Linked DNA regions of Homo sapiens: regions 2, 3, 4, 5, 6 and 7 are each linked to region 1. Evidence: fine-mapped expression QTL. A gene starts in region 1. Each other region holds a variant in brackets. All regions are shown on one strand. Distances are between the middles of the regions. Region 1 holds the start of IMMP2L (inner mitochondrial membrane peptidase subunit 2). Region 2 overlaps IMMP2L (inner mitochondrial membrane peptidase subunit 2). Region 3 overlaps IMMP2L (inner mitochondrial membrane peptidase subunit 2). Region 4 overlaps IMMP2L (inner mitochondrial membrane peptidase subunit 2). Region 5 has its middle 450 kb from the start of LRRN3. Region 6 overlaps IMMP2L (inner mitochondrial membrane peptidase subunit 2). Region 7 overlaps IMMP2L (inner mitochondrial membrane peptidase subunit 2).

What was found.
Region 2: its variant is fine-mapped to the expression of IMMP2L in blood mononuclear cells (TOPMed, PIP above 0.99).
Region 3: its variant is fine-mapped to the expression of IMMP2L in fibroblasts (GTEx, PIP 0.91).
Region 4: its variant is fine-mapped to the expression of IMMP2L in whole blood (TOPMed, PIP above 0.99).
Region 5: its variant is fine-mapped to the expression of IMMP2L in spleen (GTEx, PIP 0.97).
Region 6: its variant is fine-mapped to the expression of IMMP2L in whole blood (TOPMed, PIP above 0.99).
Region 7: its variant is fine-mapped to the expression of IMMP2L in whole blood (TOPMed, PIP 0.99).

Annotation. Positions count from the first base shown.
Region 1 is chr7:111,560,097-111,564,271 of GRCh38, reverse strand. It overlaps IMMP2L (inner mitochondrial membrane peptidase subunit 2), which reads left to right and starts at 1,780. Exons shown (of 6, transcript NM_032549.4): 1 at 1,780-2,421. RefSeq lists a silencer at 1,619-2,248.
Region 2 is chr7:111,275,999-111,280,173 of GRCh38, reverse strand. The region is part of intron 3 of IMMP2L (inner mitochondrial membrane peptidase subunit 2); the gene reads left to right. Among named protein-coding and RNA genes, the nearest start is that of LRRN3, 190 kb to the right of the region's middle. The variant A/G (reference allele first, on the strand shown) is at 1,723.
Region 3 is chr7:111,202,014-111,206,188 of GRCh38, reverse strand. All of the region lies in intron 3 of IMMP2L (inner mitochondrial membrane peptidase subunit 2), which reads left to right. LOC124901725 (a long non-coding RNA gene) reads left to right here. Exons shown (of 2, transcript XR_007060477.1): 1 at 1-4,175. Among named protein-coding and RNA genes, the nearest start is that of LRRN3, 110 kb to the right of the region's middle. The variant T/C (reference allele first, on the strand shown) is at 2,450.
Region 4 is chr7:111,224,749-111,228,923 of GRCh38, reverse strand. The region is part of intron 3 of IMMP2L (inner mitochondrial membrane peptidase subunit 2); the gene reads left to right. LOC124901725 (a long non-coding RNA gene) reads left to right here. Exons shown (of 2, transcript XR_007060477.1): 1 at 1-4,175. Among named protein-coding and RNA genes, the nearest start is that of LRRN3, 140 kb to the right of the region's middle. The variant G/C (reference allele first, on the strand shown) is at 2,545.
Region 5 is chr7:110,635,367-110,639,541 of GRCh38, reverse strand. No RefSeq gene overlaps it. Among named protein-coding and RNA genes, the nearest start is that of LRRN3, 450 kb to the left of the region's middle. The variant G/T (reference allele first, on the strand shown) is at 2,552.
Region 6 is chr7:111,233,913-111,238,087 of GRCh38, reverse strand. All of the region lies in intron 3 of IMMP2L (inner mitochondrial membrane peptidase subunit 2), which reads left to right. It overlaps LOC124901725 (a long non-coding RNA gene), which reads left to right. Exons shown (of 2, transcript XR_007060477.1): 1 at 1-4,175. Among named protein-coding and RNA genes, the nearest start is that of LRRN3, 140 kb to the right of the region's middle. The variant G/T (reference allele first, on the strand shown) is at 1,824.
Region 7 is chr7:111,385,602-111,389,776 of GRCh38, reverse strand. The region is part of intron 3 of IMMP2L (inner mitochondrial membrane peptidase subunit 2); the gene reads left to right. It overlaps LOC124900232 (a long non-coding RNA gene), which reads left to right. Exons shown (of 2, transcript XR_007060475.1): 2 at 2,714-4,175. Among named protein-coding and RNA genes, the nearest start is that of IMMP2L, 170 kb to the left of the region's middle. The variant G/A (reference allele first, on the strand shown) is at 2,434.

The DNA.
Region 1 (4,175 bases):
TTATTTCAGTGACAAGTAAGAAAAACTGGGACATATCCCCTTCACAGGAGAGCAATTTTGCTCTCTTTAGGAAACTCTTGGAATTTTAGTTATCAGGCTATTTAAGACCCTGAGTAGATTCTTAAACCTTTAGAATAAATTTTGAACCAAGAGTGCCAGAATGTCTGTTATTTACATTAGTATTAAGTGATCTGAAAGTGCACAGAGTAGTTTGGCAGTATCTAGAGGGAGAATAGAGACAGAAATAATGAAGATACAACTGGAGGAGTAAGAAAAGGAGAAAAAAAGTATTTTATGTCTGTTCAGTATTTCTAGGTGCCACTGCTGCTAAATGCCTGGGCTTCAGCCTAGGTTGGGTTGCTCCTAGCAAAGAAAACCAGTCCCTGAGACAACGAGTATTGCCAGGGAAGACAGGCTTTAATGCAGGTGATGCTGGCAGGGAGACCAGTCTCAAACATGTCTTAGGGAGACTAAAGTTAGGGCTTTCTATAGCAGGGAATTATGGAGGGGTAAGGAAGAGGAGTTTGTGAACAGGCAGCAGATGCACCTCATTGTCCAGATGTAGTGTTCTGGAAAGTTGCATTTCCTTGACACTATCTGGGAGGTCTGACAGTTTATCTGCTGAGAAAGGAACTCAGGTAAAATGCACGCAAGTTTCTCAAGTTTCACTTCGAAGGGAAAATTTGGCCGGTTTCGGTCTTCCCTTTCTATTTATCAATTCCTCAATCATGCGGAATCTGGTAGTTGATCTTTCTGGCTGCTTCACGTGAAGGAAGGGCATCTTGGGATGATATGGAATGAAAATATCGCACCTGTAATTGCAAGTACTTACGAGTACCTGGTTGGCATCCAGCTTGTTGGAGCACCATGATTTGGGTACTTTCATCAACATTTTAAACCACATTGAATTAGGATAATTAATAACATGGATAAGAAGGTTTCTTTGTAGGTTGTAATAACCCAGTTAAGAGTTTGTACCATTCGGCCGGGCGCAGTGGCTCACGCCTGTAATCCTAGCACTTTGGGAGGCCTAGGTGAGCGGATCACGAGGTCAGGAGATGGAGACCATCTTTGCTAACACGGTGAAATCCCATCTCTACTAAAAATACAAGAAGATTAGCCGGGCATGGTGGCGGGGGCCTGTAGTCCCGGCTACTAGGGAGGCTGAGGCAGGAGAATGGCGTGAACCCGGGAGGCGGAGATTGCAGTGTCGCTCTGGCGACAGAGCGAGACTCCGTCTCAGGAAAAAAAAAAAAAGAGTTTGTACCATTTGAGGGCAAAAGCTTCAGTATGAAATTCCCGTTTCTCTCAAGTAAACCGCCTGTCCTGTGTTACTCACTTTGTTTTACCTGGAGGCAGCAAAACTGAATAGTTTTCCTGAGTGCTCATGAGTAGGAAAAAATGAAATGAAGAGTTGCCCAGAGATCGCTAGTGAGGTGCTTTGCCACTACTGCCCTGTACTTAAGTAACTGTGAGGGTTCTCTGTTTCCTGGCTTCTAAAACAAGAGGAAGAGCTGAAGACACAGTTTCATAGACTTTTCGGCTCTTTATTGTAGTCTCCCCCATTAGTACGTTGCTGAGCTTAGGGCAAGTGCTCAATAATAGCTTGCTGAATTAGTGTTGTGTTTGATCCTTTCAGATCCACGCCGCATTTTGAGCCCGACCTGGGCGGGCGGTCCAGAGACCAGTTTTCCGCCGGGGGCGGAGCTTCGGGCGGCCAGCGCGCGACGGGGCAGCGGGGCGGAGCTTGCCGCCGGCGGAGGGCGGGGTCTGCGCGGGGACTTCCCCCGGGCTGAGCTGCGCAGCGGGTGCGGAGGGCGGGCGCCCGGCGTCCGGCGGCGGGTGGGGGGCTGTGAGGCTGGCAGGGGTCGGCGGGCGCGTAGCCGCCGACCCTTGGTGGTCTCTTGGGCTGGGGACCCTTCCCTGGGAGTCGGCCCCGGCCCCGGCGGGGCGGGCGTTGCCGGGAGGCGGAGGGGTGCGCGGCCGCGAGTCCTGCGTGATCGCGAGCATGTGTGCGTGCGCGTGTTTATCTGAGGCGCGTGCGGCGGCCACCCCAGCCTAGTCCTCTTCTTGGTGCCACTGGCTAACTAGGTTGAGAAACCGGCGCCACAGGCGGCACACCTGGCCCGGAGCTGGCCCGCTCCTCCCCGCCGAGCCGGCGCCCCAACAACGCGCCCTCTCCCAGTCCTCACAAAGGGGCCTAGTCCGGCCCCCGGCTCTGGCCGTGAGGGAGCGCTGTGGGGGCGCGCTGCCTTCTGCCTGGAAGTGTTGGGCAGGTGGTGGGAGAGCGTCAGGCTTGAACAACATGATTTTAAAGCACGTGTCTGTCTGTCGTTTTTTACTTTTAGGGTTTTGGCCAAATTGGGCGAGGGCACAAAATAACCACTTACCCCTTCTCACCGAGGAAGAGCGGGAGAAAGGGTAAGTAAGGAATGGTCAGGGGTGGAAGGACCTAGGACTTTATCCTGAGAGCGAGCGAGAGAGAGAAGGGCTAGATGTCCAGAACTGCTCGTGGGGAACTTGGGCCCAGATTCTACCTTTTCATCGGGAACTGGAGGACCCACCTTCAAAGTCACAGGCTCCAGGCCCCGGACTGTTTTCAGCCTCACACAGTCTATAGAGTTTAACAGCTTGGGCATGTGGATCCCTTTTAGCCCCTTGACCCGACAGAAAACTGCACTTCCCCTTTACCTGTTTTTACCTTGGAACATTGGTCCTCTCTAGTTGTCTGTCTCCGGCCCCTATCTTATTAGCCAGCTTTGACTAATCCCTGAGACCATAGCACTAAAGAATCCAGGTCCTGTTTGATAATGAACAGTAACCCCCCTAGGGATGTTTACATTTTAAAAGGGTACTCCTGAAAAAATCCTTTAGGACCCCAAAGCATAAAGTTAGTAACAAGATTACAAGTGTTGAAGTTCTTTGGGATCTCTCAAGCTTACAGAAGAAGATGTTTTGAGGGGAGAGAGATGACCAGGCTGGGCCTTTTTCTCTGGGCTTTCACTCTTGGTACCTCCTGGCAAGCATTCCATTCACTTTTGAAAAGTTGCCAAAAAGGACACTGAAGTTCTCTGAGGCTTACTGTGATTTTCAGTGTGGTCTATTTCATTGGTTCTTCTGTGGGACTTTTCTATCACTTCTTTAATACACTGCTTCCCTCTCCCCTGTATGGTGAAATGAAACACAGCTCCTCTCACAAGGTTGGGAGCTCATTATGCATCCTATATGTCACATATAAATAACCGTTTTAAATTAGTTGAAATTCAGATTAGCTACAAGCAGGAATGTAGTAAAACTGCATTCTTGGATTCTTACACAGGAAAAGTAGAATTGCCCTCTGTGATAGGCTGCCTATTCTGATACTGGCTGCCTGTGTCCTGAACGTGCCTATTTGTTTGTGCTCAAGTGATAGGTGACCACATAATTTATGGAAAACAGGAAGTGATTGTTTATTGATAATGGGTTCCTTCATTGATTCAATAGCTAATTCTCTCTTACCATGTGCTACGCACTTTTATCAGCACTTTGATAAAAGTAGGATGGTGAGAATGATGAGATTGTATTGGAGATGGCTGTTTTGGGGTAGGCCTTTCACCAGTTTTGTGGATTTTCTCAATAGTTACATGTTAATTTACAAGACTTTCCCTGTACTACTGATCATAGTGGTTTGCAGGTCTATACAGTGTTGTGGGAGAACAGAATTATTATTCCGCCTTTCTAGTACTTTCAGTAATAAACTTACAAGGATGGCTGACCTTGATGATTTGTTTCCTATAATGAATAATGTTATAGTCATTTTCCAGTGTACGAGTATAATAATTAGATGAGGATAACTTTTGTAGTTGTTCCATAAGAAGGACCTAATATTAGGAATCATGGAGAGTGTAAAGGATGATGTACTTAGAAAAATAAATTCGAAAGTAGACCATTTTTAACTTGCATGGGTTTCTGTGCATTTAGCCTCATTTAAAAGATCTAAGCTAGAATAGTTCTTTGTCTTTTTCTGGTTATAAGAGTAATAAAAAGTCAAAAAAAAGTTATTTAGAATTAAATCTGGGAGGGTATAAAAGGCAATAAGTGAGTTTCCTATGAGTCCACTTTCAGATGACCACTTAACAATTTGATACTTGTTTCTTCAACTTTTTGTTCCATATATACACATACTAAATATGCAG
Region 2 (4,175 bases), 280 kb after region 1:
GAGAATAATGAGACGATGTCGAAGGGAAAGCCAGATCATTTAGGGCCTTGCTAGAGTATGGCAAGGAGTTTTATTTTGTTTCAAGAGTCCTGTGAAGTCATTGATGGTGTTAAGAGGAGTGAGTTGACTTGTTTTTAAAAGATAGATAAATCCTGGCTTATTTGTGGAGAATAGTTTGAATAGGCAAGAGTAGAAGTAGGAGACTACTAAGAAGGTTGACACTAGTGGGTTAGTCAGCATTAAAGATGGAGAAAACTGGATAGGTCAAGATAGAGGTTGGAGATGGAGTCAATGCAATGAACTGGGCAATGCATTAAAAGCCCGAAATGTTTGTTCTCTATATGCTGCATCATGGACAAAATCCTTTGTATTTTGAAGTCTCTGTAACCTGGCCTCTTTATATGTCTGTTTATTTTCCTTTACACCCCAAGGTCCACTTTGTTCTTCAAGCAAAAGAGGTTATAATATAGTAATTAAAAGCACATGTTTTTGCACCCGACTTCCTGAGTTCAGATCTTTGCTTTGTCCCTTCCTATGTGATATCAAGTCAGAGAAATCTTGCCTTAGTTTCATAGATGACAAAACTGTAAAATTGAGACAATAATATTTAGAAAAAGGGTTTTCGTAATTCACTTAGGATCTCAAGATGGCATCCTTTGGCTAGTAGAAATAGCTTTTTAGTTGCTGCCTCAGTCTTCACATGGTCTTCTCTGTCTTTCTGTTTGTTTCTCCTTCTCTTCAACGGACTTGTCTTTGGATTAGGGCCCATCTTAATTCACAGTACTCTTATCTCAAGATCCTAAGTTAATTACAAAAAAGCTTTTTCCAAATAAGGTCATATTTACAGTTTCTGGAAGTTGGCACTTCGGCATATCATTTTGGGGGTTCACTATTCAACCCATTACAGTGAGCTTTTTGAATCAGGCTAAGACCACATTAGTTCCAACTTTGCTTTTATTCTTCTGTTTTATACATTTTACCCAATTTTGAAAATCTGGCGTAAACCTTATCACTTCCATAAAATAGCCTCTGCTGTATAAGATTTGTTATTGGGAGATAAAAAGTAAAATCAAATACAATAATGTTTTTCAATGTCTGTGATTATCAAAACTGCACAGAGGACCTGCTCTCAATAGACTACTTAGGTTAATTGATTTTTATGGATTATTTGGGTGGTTGAAATTTTTTTTTTCATGTTTCATGTCTTAAGGATTGGGAAAATATTTCATTCTCATAGAACTGATGACTTAGAAACCATTAAAATGAATATTTCTAATTCTGTTAAGAACAAGATATCTTAAAAGTTGGATTAGAGGTAGAGTTTTAAATCTAATTTCTGGGTACAAGTTGGGTGTAGATTTCAAGGAAATAGTTTTGATCACAGAAAACTAGATTACTTGTGTATGTGGGGAAGGTAGAGCAAGAACAATATATATGAGCTAGAAAATTATAAAACATGTTATTAACAAAAGATCATACTTTATTAGGTTTTCCTTTCTCACTTTCAGGGCTTAAAGATGAAAAAGTCTTCAGTTGGAGCGTTAATACAAATATGTGTAAATCATGCCTTATTACTGAGTTTCACAACTGGGGTGTGCAACTGATGTGTCTGTATATGTGTAGAGAGAAACTGGAATGATGTTTTAGTGAAGCATTGACAATGGTTATCTCTAAATGGTGACATTCATTTTTAAAACTATCTGATCTGACTGTGTTTTTTTG[A/G]CAATAAAAGTGTGTCATTTTACAAAAACAATTGTTGGGAGTGGAGAAGAGATGAAGAGTTTGAGAGTGGCTGGAGCCCCCAGGCTAGTTCACTCCAGCTGCACATACAAACCATGTTTACTCATGTCTCATATAAAGAGTATAATTTTCTCTATATACCATAGGGCAGAAATTGTTGAGAAGCACTGTAAATGTGTATGTTAAAACTTTTCAAAGAAATTATTTGTTTGTATATTTGGGGATACAAGTGCAAGTTTTTTACATGTATGTGTTGTGTAGTGGTGAAGTCTGGGCTTTCAGTGTACCCATCACCCAAATATTGAGTATTGTACTCAACAGGTGGCTTTTTAGCCCTCACCCCTCTCCCATCCTCTCACCTTTCATAGTCTTCAGTGTCTTTTACTCCACGGTCCATATGTACCCATTGTTTAGCTCCCACTTATAAGTGAGAACATGTGGTATTTGACTTTCTAAGTTATTTCACTAAGGATAATGGCCTTCAGTTCCACCCATGTTTCTGCAAAAGACATGATTTTATTCTTTTTTATGGCTGAATAGCATAATGTAGTGTTACATATACTACATTTTCTTTATCCAGTCTTCTGCTGATGGGCACTTAGGTCGATTCCATAGCTTTGCTATTGTGAATAGTGCTGCAATAAACACACAAATTACAGTTACCATTTTTATATAATGATTTCTTTCTCTTTGGGTAGATACCCAGTAGTGGGATTGCTGGATGGAATAGTAGTTCTATTTTTAGTTCTTTGAGTAATCTCCATTCTGTTTTCCATAAAGGTTGTACTGAAATTCCTACAAGCGTTCCCTTTTCTGCTGCATCTTTGCCAACATCTGTTGTTTTCAGACTTTTTTTTTTTTTTTTTTAAATGAGACAAGGTCCCTGTCTGTCTCAGGCTGGAGTGTGGTGGAGTAATCTCGGCTCACTGCAACCTCCGCCTCTTGGGTTCAAACAGTTCTTGTGCCTCAGCCACCTGAATAGCCAGAATTACAGTGTTTTTAGACTTTTTAATAGTCATTCTGACTGGTGTAAAATGGTATCTCATTGTGGGTTTAATTTGCATTTCTCTGATGATTAGTGATTTTGAGCATTTTTTTGTGTGTGTTTGTTGGCTGCTTGTACGTCTTTTGGAAAATGTTCATTCCTTTGCTCACTTTTTAATTTTTTTTTTATCTTGTAGAGTTGTTTGAGTTCGTTGTAGGTTCTGGATATTAGCCCTTTGTCAAATGCAAATATTTTTTCCCATTCTATAGACTGTCTGTTTACTCTGTTGATTGTTCCTTTTGTTGTGCAGAAGCTTTTTAGTTTAATTAAATCCTATTTGTCTATTTTTAGTTTTGTCGCTTTTGCTTTTGAGAACTTGGTCATAAAGTATTTGCCTAGGCCAATGTCCGGAAGAGTTTTTCCCAAGTTTTCTTCTAGGATTTTCATAGTTTCAGATCTTACATTTAGGTGTTTAATCCATCTTAATTTTTGTGGATGGTGAAAGGAGGTATGGGTCCAGTCATTCTTCTGCATGTGGCTATTCATTTTTTCCAGCACCATTTATTAAATAAGGTGGCATTTTCCCCAGTGTATATTTTTGTTGACTTTGTTGAAAATCAGCTGGTTGTAGGTATGTGGCTTCATTTCTGGGTTCTCTATTCTGTTCCATTCATCTTGGTATCTATTTTAATATCAGTCCCATACTCTGTTGGTTGCTATAGCCTTGTAATATAATTTGAAGTCAGGTAGTGTGATGCAGCTAGCTTTTTTTCCCCTTAGGATTACTTTGGCTTTTTTTTTTTTTTTCGGTTCCACATGAATATTAGGATTTTTTTTTTCTAATTCTGTGAAAAATGACATTGGTAAAAGCCCAGGATCAGATGGGATCACAGCTGAATTCTACCAAATAATAAAGAAGAACTAATACCAATCCTCTTGGAACTATTCCAGAAAATTGAGGGGGAGGGAATTCTTCCTAACTTACTCTATGAGGCCAGCATCAACCTCATCCCAAAGCCAGATAAGGAGACAACAATAAAAGAAAACTGCAGACCAAAATCTCTGATGACCATAGACACAAAATCCTCAACAAAATACTAGCAAATAGAACACAACAGCACATCAAAGAGATTAATATACCATGATCATGTGGGATTTATCTCAAGGATGCAAGGATGCTTCGATATATGTAAATTGGTAAATCTGATACATTACAGACACAGAATTAAGGACAAAAACCATATGATCGTCTCAATAGATGCAAAAATTTCCTTCAGTAAAATTCAGCACCCCTTCATGATAAATATCCTCAAAAGACTAGGCCTTAGAAGGACATATCTCAACATAATAAAGAAAATATAAGACAAACCCACAGCTGACATTATACTTAATGGGGAAAAGTTGAAAGTATTAAGAAATAAGAGGCATCTAAATTGGAAATGAGGAAGTC
Region 3 (4,175 bases), 360 kb after region 1:
TTACTAATAGTGAGATCTGAAGGAGGTTATAGATTCTTTAAAATCACAGCTGTGTAAGAATAAGATAGGGTTTGAGGTGTTTTAAAGCAGTCTTGTGTGCCATTAGAAAAACAGATTTGGTATCATTGGGATGTCTTTAGAGATTTAACACTGTGTTTTGTAGCACGTTTTAATTGTGTGCACTTGGGTTTGGAGCTGTGCAGGCGGTCCTCTACTTAAAGTGATTGTACTTGTAGATGATGCATAAAGGCTTCCAGCCAGTTTCTTCTATGTTATTATGTATTGGCACTTAATGCAAGCAGGTCACAAATGAACTCGCCCCAGCTAGTCTGACTCCTGATATGAATCAAATAAGGCCCCCCTCATCAACAGCCTCAGCTTGTTCCCATGGGCTCCTCTGTGGAACTCAGTATAGGATTAGACTCAGCTCTAGAGCAGCAACTGGGAGAGAGCAGAATGGGAGCAAGATGGCATGGCCTATAGTTCATAATTTAATCTTTTTTTTAAGTGTGTAAATCTCCTATATTTTTTGTTATTATTAATTTTTATTTAATGTTTTTTTTTACTGATATGGATAGTTTACAAATTTAATTCTTGAATTCAAAAATTCAAAGAGGTAAAGTTGGAAGGAGGGAGAAAAATATATATTTGGTTAGCAAGAGACCTTTAATCTGTATAAGGTCCTGTGACGTTCAATGGAACTGATTTTCCTGAGGAGTTAGGAAATTGGCTCTGTGACAATCTCCATAGAGAAGTTCTTTGGACAACTGTAGCAGTGATAATTTCCTTGAAAGAAATACACAACAAACCAAGTAAAAACACTGTGAAGGGCTTCACTTATTGATGTATGTGATGGGCTGAATATGTCCCCCAGAATTCATATGTTGAAACTTAATCACCAATGTGATAGTATTAAGAGGTGGAGCCTTTAGGAAGTGATTAAGTCATAAGGCTAGAGCTCTCATGAATGGGATTAGTGACCTTATAAAAGAGGTGGAAAGGAGGGTCTTAGGCCTGTTTTGTTTTGTTTTTGGCTTTCCACCTCTGCCATGTGAAGACACAGTGTTGTCCCTTGTGTACTTTTTGCCCCTCCTGCAATGTGAGGATACAGCAAGAAGGCCCTCACCAGACACTGAATGCTGGCACCTTGGTCTTGGACTTCTCAGCCTCCAGAACTGTAAGAAGTAAATTTCTGTTCCTTATAAATTACCCAGTCTGATATTTTGTTATAGCAGGAGGAATGGACTAAGATAGTGTATGAAGTTTGATATATTGATGAAAAAGAATTCATTCTGATTACTATATTGTCACACTTTACATCCCAATATACTCCCAACAATGTTTAAGTAATGACTACATCAATAAAAGCAGTTTGAATTGTAGACACTTACTCTGTGATCTTCAGTAGGTCAGTTAACTTCTCTAAGGCTTAGCTTCTTTATCTTTAAATGGGGGATAGCAAAACATAAGCTCTTGTAAAGATTAAATCATTTCTTATATGAAAGTACTCAACATGTTATTTAAATGTGAAAGTACCTCAAGTATATAGGTGGTAGCCAAGAAGTTTTATTTTTTTAAAAATTTATTTTTATTCAAAATCACAAAGTATAGTACAGAATTTTTATGGGAAAAGAGAGCTGGTAGATCATTATAATATCATATATAGCTACTTTATGCTTATGTGCTAATACACATAATATAGATCAACTGGCATTATTTAATACTTAGTATGCTTGGAAAACTGTACAGCATATTAAATTTTAATCAGATATTTTTTCATATATGTTGTCTTGCAGAGGTGATGATATGCTCTAGGTTTTATTATAAACTAAAATGAGATTTTTTTGTTGTTGTTTTATGCCCTTGTAGTTCATATTGTAATTTACTTTTAACAGAAGCAGATCCCAAATTGCATTTTAAAGGTAGATGCCTCTCATGAGACATTTGCATCAGTGAGCGATGTGGGCTTGTGAAAGTATTTTCAAAACTAATCACAGCAGGATTTGTCTCAGTCGTTGAAACATTGTTGGACAGAACAAGATAATTTCACATCCACTAGAGGAATGATATTATTTTAGAATAATATTTTAAAATGTAGATACTATAAAAGGTAAAAGAATATTTTTTGAATGTCAGATTTATTTCCTTTCTGAGTGTACATTGGGATGGTTAGACTTTAAAAGTATAAGTGATTTGTGAGTCCATTCAGCAGTTCTATAGTGTGAGATCTTTTGTATTATCAAAGTAACCATTTTAAACTATTCCTAAGAAAATTCTTACAAGGGTAACCAATGTAATGGTCTTGAGACATGGAAATTGTTTCCAAGAGAAGTTTTAGGATTTAGTGATTTTTTTTCAAATATTTGAGAGCTATCTTTTTGGAATTACATTGCTTTGCTCTTTATTATACTGCATAAATACCCCGAGGATCTTTTTTGTTTTTTTGATT[T/C]GTTGTATCAAACCTATGTCCCTTCCTCCAGAAAATGGACAAGGTGAAGGCAAAGAAGAATTATTTTACCTAATGTTTGATGGTGATAGAAGCAGAACAAGTAGCATCATGAATCTAATTCCTTGGGTTTCTTTGGTCCTTCAGTTTTAATTGAAAAAAAAAAAAAAAAAGAACCAGTATAATAATGTAATATTACCCTAGGCTACTCTTTCCCAAACATTATTTCTTTTTTATTGTTTTAAAAACCTATGCCTTATATTTTCTGACTGCCTTATTTAAAGTAACACCTTCCCCAATAATCTGTATCTATCTTGCCTTCATTTTCTTCAAAACGCTTGTTGCCATCTGACATACTATATATTTTTCTTGATTTTTTTTTCTGTTTGTTTCCTTCATTAGAATAAAAACTCCATGAGAACAGGGACTGGTATCTGTTTTGTTTTTTGCTGTATCCCAGTGCCAAGATCAGCACCTGGTATATAGGATGCCCTCAATAAATGTTTATTGAATGAATATGGTAAAAGAAAAAAAACCGTCTTGCCTATTAAGGTGACTGACTTCTTTTTATGTTAGCATTTGTTTCAAGAATTAATTCATCTCAAATGAACTATCATCCCTTTGAATATCACCCTTCTTCTTTTTACTTGCATCTGTGTCTGAATAGATAGTACTAGTTTGGGAGGTTGTAATAGTCACTTCTCATTTTTGGATGGCCAATGGCCTATTTACAGAGGGTAGATTACTTCCCCATAACCATTAATGTTTATAGTTTAGGGCAAGAGATCAATACTCAAGCCATCTATATTAAACTTGGTCTCTCAATATGGTGGTCACCTATGGATTTCTTTATTTGCTTGATTGTTTCTGTCCATCATTTTCCAAAATGGATTTCAAGAGGCTAGGTCTCTACAAATTCCTAACATCCCCTTCACACTCATCTCTGTTTCTACTCTACTAATCAATCATTATTGGGTCAACTAGATAGAGTTCATAGTGTAAAGTTGCTTATTATTTCTTTATCTCATTTCTAAAGAGAAGTAGTTCATTTCCCCAAACTCCTTTTTTGCTTGGATAATATTTTCCTTTGATGTTATATTTTAGCACTGTTTTAGCCAGTCTCTGTGAAGAGTCAATTCTACATATCCTCTGTACTGTCGATCATTAGAGTGCAGCAACCTAGAACAAAGTGGAGGCACTTGAATTGCTGGCTGGGTTCACGAGTGAAACTAACTGTGAGGACACTCATCTTTGCCCCGTTGGGTTTATTTGGAGTAGATCAGTTTAAATGATAGGCCTCCATGGGAGAAAGAAGACACTTCCATAACAATGAATTCTACATGACAGGAAGCTATGAGTGCGTGAGTACAGTTATTTTTGATTCTTGAAACTTGTTATCAGAGAATTGTTAGCATGGTGGACTTAGGGGCCAGCACTCCAGTTAACAGCTTCCTTTTCCAGACAAATTTAAGTTCCATTAATGGATTTTAATTACACTGACTTTTTCTGCCAAGAGTGGGTGTCATGGAAATTTATAACCTGATATCAAAGGAAACAGAAATTCTTCATTTAACTTTTAATTGTCTCTCAAGTGACAATTACGCTTTGAATGATGGGTCAAATGATGTTATTTATTACAACACTAGGAACCTGTTTAGTCAAATGGAGAAGCTACTTTTCAAAAGATGGGCTTTGAAATTAATGTCTAGTTTTGCATGTGGCTTGGTTA
Region 4 (4,175 bases), 340 kb after region 1:
ACTGTTACTTCTTGGTCATTTTTGAAAGGTATAAATTATTTTACCTTTGTTTTTACATATATCCATTAATTTTTTTTTATAACATTGTAAAATACCTTTCACCTAAGATGGTGGGGACCCTTTGTTAACTCCAAGAAGATGGATAGCCATAGGATATGCTATATTTAAATGTAGTTCTTCTGCAAATAACTATAGAATATTTATGCATTTTTGACAAAGTTTCAGAGGCATAAATGCTGCCATTGCCCAATAGAGGAAATTTCATACAAAACTCACCAAACTTTATGTATGGTCAGTTTCTCGGAATGGATACTTCTGCAGACTAGTTCCCCAGTCTTCTTGCACTTCTAACACACACTTGAGAGATGGGACCTGTGGGTCTGTACTGGTCTTGGCCATCTGGTCTCAAGGACCATCAGGAAGCTGTCTTGGTTCTTGTGCTTAGAACTCAGTGTTTCCTGGCTTTTGGGAGGTATTTCCAGATTTGACACCTTTGATTTTTTTTAATAAAAGTTTTTCTTTTTGAGTCTCATTTTTTTTTAATGAGAACCTATTCATCTCCTAATACAAATTGATAGAAATAGACTTGACTTTATCAAGTTAAGTACTTGAGCCAGACACATGTTGTATTCCAGCCTGTGTTCCAAGTGCTCCTGTCCCCACCTTGACAGCCTTTCAGGTTTGTGGCTTTTATTTATATGCTATTGTCTTGTGGTTAGTACCTTTTCTTGAATATAGAGGAGTAGAATTATTTTGTGTTTCAGAAATGTTTGTTTTAAACATGAACATAAACGTATTTCAACAGCAGATAATCTCTTAATGAGGGAATTCTTGGTTGGCCCATCTGAAGTCAATCCTGACATTATTTCTGATAGATTTCTGTGGCCTATGGCTAGGTTTCAATGGAATCGGTTCTGAAATCACTACATGCTGTCGAAATCAAAACTTGTCATATTAGGTTCTGTAACAAATACAACTAATGAGACAACAGATTAATAGTAGAAGTGGTTTTTGAAATATCATTCCAAGGTATTGATTTACTCAAAATGTTATAAATACCACTCTGGATTAACTTTAAAATGGGTTACTATGTGATATATATATTTTTTGTAGATGCCAGAATTCTGTTTCTAGGAATTCTTTATTGATAAAATGTTAAATGTTGAAAGATAGTACATTTGACCAACATACTTTTGACAAACATTCTGAGCATTAGATGTTTATTGTGTGGTTGCCATATTAGGAGTGGTTTATTTCTGGCTTATGCAGAGTATGGGAGTAGCTTTATTAAGTGTTTCTCCTCAGTTTTTGTCTTTATAGGCTCTGAATTTTGTAGACACATTTATTTCTTGGGATTCCTTTTCAACATTGTCCTTTGGGACTGGCAAAGGCAGTTTTAGATAGATCTGGTTTCATATGGAACTGCTTCCTGTGACTAGTGTTTTCTCTTGGGTGCTGTAAAAATAACTAATCCTTATAGTCGAAGCTTAAAAGAAAACAGGGAGATATCCTATAATATATTCTACTTCCATCTTTCCTTATTGATTTCTGGGAACATGTATTGATTGGAAGAAGAAGTTTGGGAATCTCTTAAAGTAATACTTCGGGTAGCAAATGAAATATAGAAAATGGAGAAGGAGATAAAAAAGTAGTGGTAATGGAAGAATGCAGAATAGTGTGAGAAATGTGTGTGGGTGTAAATGGAGCACTGTATGGCTGTTTGCAAGGTGAAACCAGGTGGTGGTGTGTGGCAAGTGCAGCATTCTGTGCTACCAATGCCAGAGAATGATATCTGGAACCATTGAAAGCCCCTTACGCAGCTTCAACCCACCCCTTCTTATTCACCTGAGCAATTTATTTGTTTTCATTCTTTCTCTTATCCATTGCCTTCTTTCTTTATCTTGTTTCCTCCTATTTCATCAGGGATATGAATCCACCAATCACTTCCCCTTTTTACTGGCATTTCCAGTCTTGTCTTCTCCACTGATTATTATCTTGAACAATAAATTTGCTCATGTATTTTCTATGTAGCTCTCTCCATTCTGTCCCTTCGTATTATTGCTATATTACTTCCATTTCCTTCTAGTCAGTTTACCAAAAAGCATGTTACAATTATTGTAGACTCAAAGATACTGTACCTGATAATGCCCTTTTTGGGGAAATGAATCAAAGATCATAATCAACACTTTGTTTTTGTTGTTATTGTTGCCAGAGTTAAAATTTATTTCTTATTTCACTTCACAATTAGCTATAATTATGTTGCTATAAAGAGAAATTTTACATTGTCTCCCCCATTACTGTGGTAGTTGAATTGATCATCATTTAGCAGAAAATCAAAGAGCGCAATGATCAAGCAGTAGAATGACCTGTTGCTAGCTCTCAGAGGTTTAATTCCCCAGAAGCAGACATTGAGATGAGGATTTGTTTGCAAGTAATTTATTAAGAAAGTGAGAAACAGCCAGGCATGGTGGCTCACATCTGTAATCCTGGTACTTTGGGAGGCTGAGGCAGGAGGATCGCTTGAGCCAGAAGTTCAAGACCAGC[G/C]TGGGCAACATAGTGAGACCTTGTCTGTAAAATAAAAAAATAAAATAGTAAAATAAAATGTAGCTGGGCATGGTGGCACATGGCTGTAGTCCAAGCTACCGAGGAGGCTGAGAAAGGAGGATTGGTTGAATCTGGGAGGTCGAGACTGCAGTGAGCCGTGATTGTGCCATACTTCAGCCTCGGTAACAGAGCAAGACCCTGTCTCAGAAAACAAAACAAAACAAAAAAAGGAGTAATCAATTAGGGAGTGACAGAATGGGAAAAAAAGGGAATGGGGAAGAAGAGGTATGATTTTAGGCAAAGTCTTTTCAAGGATAGCTTTAGTCTAAACCTTCATGAGAGCTCTGGAGTATGAATTATTTGTCTGTTCAAACCCAAATTAAATGAGGTAGATGTTCATACTTCCATCCCTACCAGCCACTGCCTAAGGATGATAAAGGGGTACAGGAGGGGAGATGCTTATCCCCAGTTAGGGGGATATATAAAGTGACTATAGTAGCCTGAGGGCATAAGAACACTTAACAAGTCTTATCTTTTGGAAGCAAAATCACACTGAAACAACATGCAAGTCAGAATATGTATTGTAATGTGCACAAGTCTTCTTAAGGAACCATGTGATGGAATTGGATAATTTACTTTGCACTCCATCACTCCACTTAACCACCCATTCTTTTTTTTTTTTTTTTTTGGCTCTATCTCACCATTTTGACTGGAAAAGGGATGAGTATTTTATAGCACTTTTGATGGATAATTGTGACATTCTTCTTTGATATTATATTGATATTATACCAAAACTCAATAAGTAGTACTTTCCTATAGACTATTTACAGTGTGGAATCTGATGCCATATCAATGAACTTTTTGTATTTTCTCACTCCAAAATCCATTGGTTTATCTTGCACCTTGAATAAATCTTTTACCCATGCATGTATTGGTCATTTGGAAAATATAGATTCATTGGGTTATATATCTTCCAAATGTTTATGCATTTTATTATACAGCATAAACAAATCCCATTTATTAATATTACTACTGCTGCATCAGAAAAGTCATGATATTAGTAAGCTCTTACAGTGGCAATATAAGGCTTTCTTATAACTGTCACAGTGACAGATGTAAGTTTTTCAAACTTCTACTTTTTGCTTGAAAGCTTTAATGTTATCATTGGTAATGAATACTGTCAGTTGTTTTCCTTGAAGTGACAGATTAACTTTGTCCATTTTTGTGAAAATGTCTGCCAAAAATCCAAGTCTAAATAATAATAGCTTATCTGTCAGTTGTCCCTTTAAGTAAAAAGTGTTTGGTGGAAAAAAGTGGCTAGTTCAGCTTGCAACGGAAACAACCAGGAGTGCTGTTCCTTAAACAACCATTGTACTCTAGTTGCAGTGAGTGCTTTATGTGTATTTGCCATTTCACCACACAGAATAATAAAACACATTTAATTTGAGATATAATGGAACTAAGATTTTTACTCCTTCATCGAAGACATTCTTAAATAAAACAGACTTTGCTTGCTTTAATGACAGTGCATGGCAGTGAAGAGTACAATGACTCAGTAAAGTTTGGTGCCAAGGCTTTGATTTATGCTAAGCTGCTAGCAGTTCTCCCACCAGTGCTTTCATATCATCTGT
Region 5 (4,175 bases), 920 kb after region 1:
CCTCCATGTGTCTCTCTCTTTGCCCCTGTGTGTTTACATATCCCTCCCTGCCCTTGTAATAATGAACATATACATGCATTTTTAAAGTTTATTAAGTAATAATAACAAACAATTCTGATGGTAATTTTTTAACATGAAACTGAAAGGAAAGATTTGTTTTCCTCAAAAAATCTTGTCCCTCTCTTGCCCCCTTACCTTCATTAAATATAACCTTTAAACTTGGGTCCAGCTCATGAGTATGTATTTTTTCTATTGGTCACTTATTCTTAATCAATTTATAGAAATAACTGTGTGCTATTATTTAAAAGTTCATATTAAAGCTTTTCTTTTAAAGAGAAGAAATTCTCCTGTTCTAAAGAGTTAATTATAATTTGTAGTGAATGATCATTACATTTTTACCAAAATGAAGAACGTAATTGAAATGTGTCTCTTTGGGAAAGTGCATATAGTATATGACTTCTTTCTGACCATGAATTTCCCTGAAACAAAAGTCTAGCATAGTCAAATTTACTTTTCTATACCTATTTAGCAATCAAGAGAATTTTGTTCTAAGGATAAGCAAATATTAACTGTCCACTATGGGAAATAATAGAAAGGGGAGGATTGGGGATTTGGGAGAAGAAAATGGGGATTGAGCACATGGAAAACTAGGAGTAGAGGTTTATTGCAGTGGTTTTCAGAGAGGAAAAGGAAGGCAGAAGGTGAGTAATTTGGGTCTCAGAATGGCCTTCCTGTATAGTGAGAGGAGCAGAAGTCAGGAAGGAGTCCTCAAAAACAGGCTGGGGAGCCAAGTCCAAGTATCCTGCCACATTCTAGAATCTCCTGGTGAATATCCTGTGTTTAGAGATTTGAAAACACTCATTTGCTGCTAGAGCAGATATGCTGAATAAGGCAACAGTAGCATGTTATTTGAAGTCTTCGTCATCCTGCAGCCATGCGGTAGAGTTGGACTTGGGAGTCCAAGCTCATAACTCTGATTCATAAAATCCAAAAGGCATTGACCTCTTGGAGGGAAGAAAAGATGGGAGAGGGTAAGGTGAGGGAAAATGCCTCTCACAATGCAATGCTTTCCTCAAACAGAGCACAATTGATTTTAAGCATGTCTTTGACAATGAATAAAAAGGGAGATCCTGAGGAATGGATGGTCTGAAAATTTCATCTCAGAACCCATTCTTACTATTTAAGTTATATAAAAATTAAAGATAACATCTTTATTTGCTTTGTTTGTGGGTTTTTATTGTCTCAGTTTTTGCTGATATTTAAAATATTTTAAGATTCCCTTTTATGCCCTTAGTTCTTCTAACATTATTTATCTTATAAAGGTTTTTAGTCCTTCTACTTAAAATTCTCTTGCTATGAGGGATTGCAGAAAGGTCGTCTTTGCAGTTATTGCAATTGAGGGGAAGAATACTGGACATTTGATTTAAGGAATTTAGAAGGTCTTTATCAATATATATCATCCCTGAGAAGTAATTATCTAAGCTTTGTTTAAATGCCCAAGTGATGGAAAATGTGTTGTCATATAGACAGCCCATTAAATTTAAGATAGGATTATTTGTTTGACAACTTTCCTTACATTGATCTAAAATTTTTCTCTCTGCAATTTCTTCTGCCTTCTGAAATAAAGAAATGTGATCTATTTTTTTTTCTAAGAGGTGTTGACAATTTTTTTTTTACGTGTAGTTCAAGTTCTTTCCTTTAGTAGCAAGTTTCCTGTATATTCCTATACATTGTGGGTTTTTTAAATTATCACATATGATACTTTTATGACTGTAATTCCTTATATCTGACTTAGGTTGGTGGCTTCATTTAATCTCATTTGGTCTCTCAAATCCTTCCCCCTTTTCCTTCCCTGCCTACTGCTCTTACCATCCACTGTCCCAGACCTTTCTACTCCTACAGCTCCCACCTTTTCTTGTCCCCAATTGCACCTTCTCTGCAAACAAACAAGAGCTTGGGCCTGACAGGTAGCTCCTCTGAGGCTGGTGGATATGTCATGGGGACAAGTGGGCATCGGGCCAAGTGTTAGCCACCTTCCATGTGAGGGCGAGACATCAAAACTGCTGTGTCTTAGGGCCGCCAGCCCCAGTGAGAGCAGAGGAGCTTCCCAGAGGCAGTGGCTCTAAAGGCTCCTTTGATGGAGCTATGCTTGGCAGGAAGGGGCTGGCGTCCCATGGGACCAGCTGCATTGGAGCCTGTAGCTTAGAAGCCCGTGGGAACTGGGTACCAAAGTCACAGGAGCCAGTGGAGGCCAGAGGGATGTCTGACAGAGTTCATACATTTCATATTTGAAATGCCTTAAGAACATGGATTCTCTGATTTTTACAAAAATAAATTCTGACACTTAAAAATCATAAAATGCTAGTGGTCATACTGGTAGATCAGTCTTACAAGAAATAACGTCAAAATGCAGTGATGCTATTTCCTCCTGCATTGCAGCCAGTCCACCCCCAGCGAACCTTCACTCCTCTACCAGTTCCCTCCTCTGTTCCTAAATGACAAGATTTCAGCCCCATTTCCTGAATACTTTCTTGTTTTAATGCATAGTAAG[G/T]TTATGTGACTGATTTTGGCATTCATCTAATAATAATGGCTATTAGGTATGCATTCAATGCACACTTAGTGAAGCCAACTCTTGGGCTCTGGGCTGAGCACTAGGGATTTAGCAGTGAATGAGACAGAGGATTGAGATGGAGCTCTGGGGCCGGGCTACTTTCATTCATCCCCAGCCCTGTCTCTTACTAGTTCCTCTAGCCATTATTTAATATTTCTGTTGCAGTTTCTCCATCTATCAAACAAGAATAATAATGGTAACAATTAATTGATAGTCTAATTTTCAATTAAAAATCTAATGGAGTTGTCAGGATTAAATGACTTTATACATGCAAATCACTTAGAACAACACTTTGCAGCCACTAAATATTAAATAACTGGCATATGTTATTACATTAGATGGGTCCTACCCTCAAATGCCTTATAGTTTAGTAGACAGAAAAATAAGTCAAGAGACTTATCAGGTGAACTGATCAGAAACTTTGGTTAAGGCTATTTGATTATCTAAGTCTCTACCAACAGCACAGTTTTTCAGCCCTTATTTTTAAACTTTTATTTCCTAATCTATAAAGATATCTCAAGATAGGCCAATGACCTTCGGATGCCATTGCCTAGTGCATTATGGTTAACCAATATGGTATGTGGAACATAAAGCAGTGTGGTACTTTTGAACTGGTGTATATTTTCTGTTAAAGAGCCTGGCTACTAATTAAGTTCTGGAAAAAGTTGAGCAATGTCTTGGCTCAGGATGCTATAATAAAATAACATAGACTGGGTGGCTTAAACAACAAGTAGTTCTGGAGGCTGGGAAGTCCAAGATCAAGTTGCTAGCACAGGCCCTGGTGAGGGCCTGCTTCCTGGCTTGCAGACAGCAGTGGACTTCTGCTGTGTGCTCTCTGTCTTCCCCTTAGAAGGGCACTAATCCCATCATAAGGGACCCACCCTCATATTAACCTCATCTAAACCTAATTACCTCCTAAAGGCTCACCTCTAAATACCATCACATTAGGGGTTAGAGGCCCATAACCAGTAAGTTACAAAACTTACCTACAACTCAGATTCTTCACTCTGCAGTAAAAACAACAATACCAACACCAACACTCCCTCAGGGCTATGAATTTGCAATGAGAAGTTTTATATAGAGCCCATTGCTCAGCATTTCAGAAGTCCTTCTGTCCAGCAGTTAATAATAATGAATTTCTAAAAATACATAATGGAGGTAGAAACATGTATCCTATATTATAGTAATTTGCAGTTGATAGATAATTAAAATTAACCCCCTTCCTGGTACTGTCTATCCACATGATTTTTGCAAGTGTGTCAAAATATTATTCCAGTCTTCTAAATGGAGGACCACGTACATATCTTTTGAGAGCACAATTCTAATTAAAAGATGGCAGCTGAGAAGTAGTAAAGTCTTTGTTATAATTCAAACCTTGTCAGACAGAATTTGAATTGAATTTGAACATTATCTTCCACTGGAATTTTGTTTTTCTACTCCCAGGAAATGTATCCTTTGCCTTTATTTTTTCAGACAAAATATATCCTTTTGTCTAAAAAATTGTTTAGACTTTTTTTTTTAAACTTCAGGCAGGGATCCTGTGACTGTTGGGAGCCAAGAAAAT
Region 6 (4,175 bases), 330 kb after region 1:
TGAGAATAGGATATAAGACAATGCAGCTTTGGAGTCCATCTTCTTCACATAAGGGCTTTACTTCTAGGCAGCATAACATTAAACTTAATAAAATAATAGCCAGCTTAGTGCCAAATACTATGTTAGGTGCTCTTTGTGCATTCTTTTATTATTACAGCTACTTTATTGGATAGATACCATTATCACCATTTTACAGATCAGGAAAGTAAAGCTTAGGGAGCATAAGTAATTTATAGAGGTGTTATTTATCTTGAAGGCTATTTTACTTTAGAGCTCATGAGCTAAGGTGACTGACCTTGCATTATTCTCTGAATAAAGCCTCTAGATCTTAAACAGCAGATTGGACTAATTGAACCCTCCGAATGATGGTAGAAATTGTCCTAAAGTTTTTTTTTTTAAAGAAACAGATTATATACATTTATAAGGTGTAATTTCTATGATTATAGGTAAATATTATAGTCATAGTAATGCTTTATTTTAAATTATTTTTGCTTAATTTCTTCTATTTTGTAGTTTTTAAATCTTGCCTAAATATATGGTTATTAAAATTAATATTAACCATTAATATTAACAAGGTAATATATAGTTTATCTTAGTTATACTATGTTAAATATTGCCAAAAAATAACTTTTTGAAAGAAACAAATTATAAAATCATTCTTATTTAACTTATTTCAGATGAAGGTAAAATACATGTGAATATGGCATGCTAGTTTGTAATCTTCCAGTAAATCAAAACAGGACACAATACACAATTTTATGAATTATTCTTATAGGACATCAAATTGAATTAATTACTCAGTATCTAAGGCACAGGATAGCATTGTTTTCTTCTTCCTTTTACTGAATTATCTTTTCTAATTTTAATTAGCTTCAAAGCAAGGAATTATGAATTTAGTATTTATTTTGAGCCTTCTATGTGTGAGACATTATATCTGGGTGTGGAAATATTTATTCCATCAACTAGGATATTTAAGTTTCTTCTTTTGGGTATTATTTGTTCTTTTTTGTCCATTTGAAAATTATTATATATTCCGTGTTATGGAAACGTCACTGTTGTAAGTTCTTACTTTCTATTCCCAGAGAATGGCCATTTAATTGTATTAGAATGTTTCAGCCTAGATGGGGTTACAGGAACATGATTTGCCTTCCTACCAGAAACAAACAAAAAAGACCAGATACACCGTATGAAAGGGAGTCTTCAGACATTAAATATCAGACAGTTCAGGACAGTGATCCTTTAAGAATGGCAACAAATGAGGTAAGCCCTTTGATTGTACCAGCTGATTGCCTTGAGAGGTTTTTCCAGGGCCCAGCACAGGGAGGAGAACCCAGGTGAATGTTGGTAGTCTAGGGTTGACGAGACAGAGTTGGGAGTCTGGGGAAGTCCAGGTGGCTAGAGTTTGCAGGACAGAGTACTGACTGGAGAGAAGATGCACAGAGAGAAAACTATATAGATATGCAGAAGGTCCTCGTACAGCCCTCAGCTGAGGACCCATCAGTATGTGGGGAACCTACAAAAAGCTGGAGAAATAATCACCTCAAAAGAACACAGGGAATAGTTTTCAGAATTTATACAGGGCTGGGAATTATTCATGTTCCCATATCAGCCAGAGTGGAAAACCTCATAATTCACGAAGCATCAGATAGAATAACCAGAAGAATATTGCCTAGTAGTGGAGCATATTCACCCCTAGATTAAAGGCTGTGCCAGTTTTGCCTAACAAAGTTTAAAAGCCAACTTCTATAGGATTTGCTGTTCCCAAGTAACTTAACTGTTTTCTCAAACAAAGCTCAAGGATGTTCCTCAGGACACAAGAATAT[G/T]TAGCACCCCAAAAGGTGAAAATCATGTTTGGAAGCTAGTAAAAATATTACTTTTAATGCAAAGACACAGGAAACCATGACACAAAATGAGGAGAACATCAATCAGTTAAAAAAAAACACAAATGAGAGAAATAGTAGACAAAGCATTAAAATAGTTATTGTCACATTTAATTTGTTCAAAAAAGGAGAGGAAAGATTGAAGACATTAAGCACAGAAATGGAAGATGTGAAAAAGACTTAAATCTATATTCTAGAGATGAATGTTACAGGACCTAAGATGAAAAAAATTTGCTGGATGGATCTGTGACAGTTTAGTCTACAAAGAAAGAAATTAATGAGGTGACATCATAACAATAGAAACTACCCAAAATGAACCACAGAGAGAATAATGGCTAATTTAAAAAAGAGACAATCAGTGAACTGTAGGACAATTTCAAGTGCCTCAGTATTCATGTTATTCAAGTTGCTGAAGAGGAGGAAAGTGGGAGAGTTTTAGACTGAAATATTTGAAAAAATGGTGGGAAAGAAAATTGATAAAAACTATAAACTCAGAAGAAACTAAAAAAACCCCAAGCACAAGAAGATGATACAGAGGCATATTATAATCAAACTAATACCAGTGATAATGAGAAAATCTTAAAAGAAGGCCAAAAAAAAGAGACGTATCAGGTACAGAGTAACAAAGATGGTTAAGAGTCTTTGCTTTGGAAACAGTGCAACACAGAGGCAGTAGAATAACATTTTTAAACTATAGAAAGAGAGAAATTATCAATGTGGAATTTTTTTTTTTTTTTAGACGGAGTTTCGCTCTTGTTACCCAGGCTGGAATGCAATGGCATGATCTCAGCTCACCGCGACCTCCACTTCCCAAGTTCAAGCGATTCTCCTGTCTCAGCCTCCCGAGTAGCGGGGATTACAGGTGCCCACCACCACGCTCGGCTAATTTAGTATTTTTAGTAGAGACTGGGTTTCTCCATGTTGGTCAGGCTGGCCTTGAACTCCTGACCTCAGGTGATCTGCCTGCCTCAGCCTCCCAAAGTGCTGGTATTACAGGCGTGAGCCACTGTCCAAGGCCATCAATGTGGAATTTTATACCTAGTGAAAATATCTTTCAAAAATAAAGATGAAATAAAAACTTGTTTAGATGAAGTAAAGATGAAAAAATTAGTCACTGGCAGACCTGTACTGAAAGATATGCTAAAAAAAGTTCTTCAGACAGAAGAAAAATGTTATCAGTTAGAAACCTGGACTATATAAAGGAATAAAGAACACTGAAAATGGTAATTTTCTCCCCTTACAGACTCTTTTAAAGTTATTTGACTGTTTAAGTAAAAAATAATAAAAATATATTGTGGACTTCGTGACATATATAGAAGTAAAATTATAATAGTAGTAGTGCAAAGGCTGGGAGAGGGGGAAATGTAAGAATACTGATGTAAATTTCTTATACTATATATGATGTGGTATAATATTACCTGAAGACAGTTCATGATAAATTAAAGGTATAAACTGTGAACCAACCACTAAAACAACAGTTAAAAGAATTATAGCTAATAAGTCAAGAAAGCAGATAAAGTGGAATAATATAAAATATGCAGTTAATCCAAGGGAGGCAGAAAAAGAGAGAAAAGAGGCTGAGGGCAGATAAAAGCAGTAGAAAACAAGTAGCAAAAGGGTAGATTCAAATCCAATCATGATTGTATATATCCAGGGAAAAAAGAGATTATCTCATAATGATAGAAGGGTTAGTTCATTAAGAAGGCATAAAACCCAGCATTTATGTACCTAATAACAGCATCAAAATACTTGAAGCAAAATCTGAAAGAACTTCAAGGAGCAAGACACAAATCCAGTTTTTGTTGGAGATTTAAATATTCCTTCTTAGTAATTGATGGACAGAGTAGACAGAAATAGATACAGACATAGAAGACCTGAACAACCCTATGAATCTGGTGTAACTGGCATCTGTATCATACAAAGAATATTATCTGAGTTTAATGAAATTAAATTAGGTATCTATAACAGAAAGACTTGTAGAAAATCTCCACATATTTGTCAATTAAATGACTCTCCTCTAAATAACCCATAGGTTAAGAAAGAAATAAAAGAAGAATTAAGGAAATACTGAACTGAACTGAATGAAAATGAAAACACATCAAGATTTGTGGGATGTAGCTAAAACAATACTTAAAGGGAAATTTATAGCACCATTTGTATTATAATGACCATCCAACTACATTACTTAAAGTTACTTGTTAATGGGTTGTCTTTTTGTATATTCCAAACAATTTCTGCTTGTGGGGAGAAATTTTAGCTACAGAATAAACATGATATTTACTTTGCGAGATGGTG
Region 7 (4,175 bases), 170 kb after region 1:
TTCTTAATAGTTATATGGGCATTTAAGGCCAAACATGTCTTTGTTTTTTAATCATTTGACAATGATTTCAAGCTTGTAGAAACATTGCAAGAATAGTACAAAGAACTGATATGATTTTCACTCAAATTTTCAATATTAAAATTTTATTATAGTTGCTTTATCATATTCTCTCTCTCTCTCTCAATCTGCCCTCCCTCTCCTCTTACCATTACACATTATTATTATTTTGAAGTTTTTTTTTGGCTTGAGAGTACATTGGAGACATGATGCCCCAGTACTCCCTTAGTACTTCAGTGACTATTTTCTAAAAATAAGGACATTTCCCTACATAATCTCAGTATAACCACCAAAATAGGAAACTAGTATTGATACAATATTACCGTCTATTACACAGATTCAATTCATAATTCACTAACTGTCCCAATGATGTTCTTTATATGTCCAGAATCTAAGCCTTGTATTTAGCTGCCCTGGCTCTTTGCTCTCCTTCAATCTGGAATCTTCATTAATCTTGCCTTATCTTTAATGATTTTGACATTTCTGAAGAGTACAGCTATGTTTTGTTTCTCTACTTGGGTTTATCTGATGTTTCCTTATGAATAAGTTGTTATTTTGGGCATTATTACCACAAAAGCGATGCTATGTTCTCAGTTCCTCATGTTAAAAGGTGTGGTTCAAGCTTATCTTGTACTTTTCTTGCCCCAGCCCTGGCGCTACCAAAGACTTCTGGTTTCTTTTAGTGGATGCTAAGGTTGCTCTTTGCTACTGGGTCTAAGATTGCTCTTTACTACTGAGGTGTCTTTGCTTCTAGATCTTTTCAGTGAACAAACCTAGGAAATACAGATTTGCACATTATATGTATATATGTATGTACATATATGCATGTACATACATATATTGATATGGCTTGGCTGTGTCCCCACCCAAATCTCAACTTGAGTTGTATCTCCCAGAATTCCCATGTGTTGTGGGAGGGACCCAGGGGGAGGTAATTGAATCATGGGGGCCGGTCTTTCCTGTGCTATTCTCGTGGTAGTGAATAAGTCTCACGAGATCTGATGTGTTTATCCGGGGTTTCTGCTTTTGCTTCCTCCTCATTTTTCTCTTGCCACTGCCATGTAAGAAGTACTTTTCGCTTCCTGCCATGATACTGAGGCCTCCTCAGCCATGTGGAACTGTAAGTCCAATTAAACCTCTGTTTGTTCCCAGTTTTGGGTATGTCTTTATCAGCAGCATGAAAACGGACTAATACATATGTACATTACATGTATATATGTACGTACATATATACATATACATCTCCATCTATCTATCTATTGATCAGTGATTATCTAAAAATATATGTTCCCACTGATCTCCTCGATTCCAAACGACAGGGTTTATTCTTCCTTCCCCTTTTTGTACTTGTAGGTTCCTTCTCCAACATTAGAAAACCTGGCTCCCATTATCCTCAGTATATTTATTTGTTTGCCCAATTTCCCCTTTTTATACTTAATTTTACAGCTGTATGGGTCATCTCCTTGACCTCAACCCACTATCCCCAGCCAACTGGTTGAATATTTGGTCCCGGTCTTGCTGTCTGTGCCAGCTAATTTCTCAGTCCTAACCAAGGGTAACTGGCCCAGATACTTCTTGTTTCCTAGCACTTTTATTATTTTCTTTTAGATATAAAGGGCTGTGTGGACTCTAAAAGTGATTTGGCTGAGCAGGTAGCATTTGGTATGGGTTATATCATAAAACAAATTTCTATTAAAAATGGGGTTATTTAGTATTTTAGTTTTTTTTTTTTTTTTTTTTTTTTAAAGACAGAGTCTTGCTCTGTCTCCAGGCTGGAGTGCAGTGGTGTGATGTTGGCTCACTGCAACCTCTGCCTCCTGGTTTCAGGTGATTCCCCTGCCTCAACCTCCTGAGTAGTTGGAACTGCAGGCACGCGCCACCATGCCTGGCTAATTTTTTGTATTTTAGTAGAGATGAGGTTTCATCATGTTGGCCAGGGTGATCTTGATCTCCTGACCTCGTTGTCTGCCCACCTTGGCCTCCCAAAGTGTTGGAATTATAGGTGTGAGCCACTGCGCCTGGCCGTATTTTAGTTTTTGTAAAAAAAATTATTATTCTAGATGTGAATGACAGAACTTTAGTGCTTAGCTTAAGATTCTGTTATGCAAGGCAATAACACTGGCATACATGCTAGCCATTTTTGATGTTAAAGATAGTTTATGAATAAGAAACCATCTATATTGTTAAGGCAGGTTTTTCTTTGGTTTCTTTTGGATTTATTTTTTGGCAGCTTGATAAGCAATAGCTAAAACGAGTTCTTGTTGAACCTTGTTTATTGGTTTGCAATAATGAGAACAGTTATTGAGTCCAATAATTTTGTGCTTTTATTTTCAAGTAACAAAGTGTTCTTATTTTGTGATGATACCACAGAAAGCT[G/A]GTTTAAAAGCTAGTTTTAAAGGATCTGTAGCTTGAGAGGTTGTAATTTAGAATGGAGACATGGTGGTCAGAGGAAATGAGCCAAAGTTAAAAGCCTTTTCTGTGCCATTGCATCTGTAACCATCCTCAAAGTACTCTGCACTTTATGTCACAAAAAAGCCTCAAATCCTGTGGGTAAATGTTATCTGCAGGAACCTCATCATTTTTGAAAACAGTACTTTTATCCTTAGAGTGTTTGAACAAGAAATACAAATAATAGTATTTTCTTTTCTTTTTACAGGACAACAGATAGATAGAAGTATTCTTCTGCTATTTTTGAATAAGTGCTATGTGATATAAGAAGCAAAATCAAATTTAAAATTAATGGATGGTGAGATAGAAACTTATGGTATTATCTTGTTTAAATCTCTTTTGCCTCTTTTGTGAAACAGTCATTCTCTTCTTTTTGTGGGGTTATTTTATGCCTAATTTTCTTTTACAAGGTAGAATATAATTGCTTGTCAGCTAATAGTTTATGGCACAGATATTTTTGCCAAACACATTAAAGGTAGATCTTGGTTATACATAACCTTCAAGGAACACAGGGAGCACACATGATATGGACAGAGAAGTTGATGGGCAGTGATTATGATCGCACAGGGAAGGGGAGTGAAGGCTTGTGTTATTCTTTTTCTTTAAATGTATTTACAGTTTATCATGAGTCTTTTATGAGTTTTCATGTCCTTGTCTGCTGTAACTTTACTTGCTTCTTATCCATTCCCTCTCTCTGTCTGCCTTTGTCTCTCACATACATTCATTCACACACACCCAAATACACATACCTTCACACTTGAATTTGAGTAGCTGGCATGCTTAGAAATATTCTCAAATGGGGGTTACATAGGGCCAATGTATATAAATTGATGTACCTTTATGTATATATGTATTTGTATAGTCACACACTCTATTTTCAAATAGAAAACCAGTCATACAAAGTATTTGCCTTATCTTAAACATTCAGTTTATGTTTGTTAAGTGAATGAATGTATGAGTCTAAAAAGAGCAATGATATTAAGGATTGGGGAAAACTGGGCATAGGAAGGATTACTCATGGGGAAGTTATTTATTCAGCAAAGATTGACTTGTCTAGATTATTATATCAGGTTATTTATCAATCATGTGGAGCAGGCTGGGAGTGGTGGTTTATGCCTATTATCCCACTGCTTTGGGAGGCTGTGGTGGGAGGTTTGTCTGAGGCCAGGAGTTCAAGACCAGCCTGGACAACAGAGCGAGACCCTGTTTCTTAAAAAAAAAAAATTAGCTGGGAGTGGTGGCATGTGGTTGTAGTCCTAGCTACTCGGGAGGCTTAAGCCCAGGAGTTGGAGGCTGCACAGTCCAGCCTGGGTGACAGAGTAAGACCCTGCCTCTATTAAAAAAAAAAATTCATGTGGAGCAATTGGTAGGTTGAGTTTATTCCTTCACCCCGCCTTACTGAACCAAATCTTATTTCTGATTAGTAGAGGGTAAGTGGATAATTAATTGAGATGTACACATATTTCATTGGAAAAGATAAATTATGCCTTAGATGAAGACAGTGACCTGGGTATGGGATCAGATATTTGTAATTTTTTTCCTTTTCCATCAGCTTTTCTTATGGCAGCTCATTTTCTGTCTTATGACAGCCAAGTAACCAGTAGAGTAAAATGACGTTTATATGGTAGAAACCACAATGAACCACTCAGGACATCTGCCTTTAAAAACAG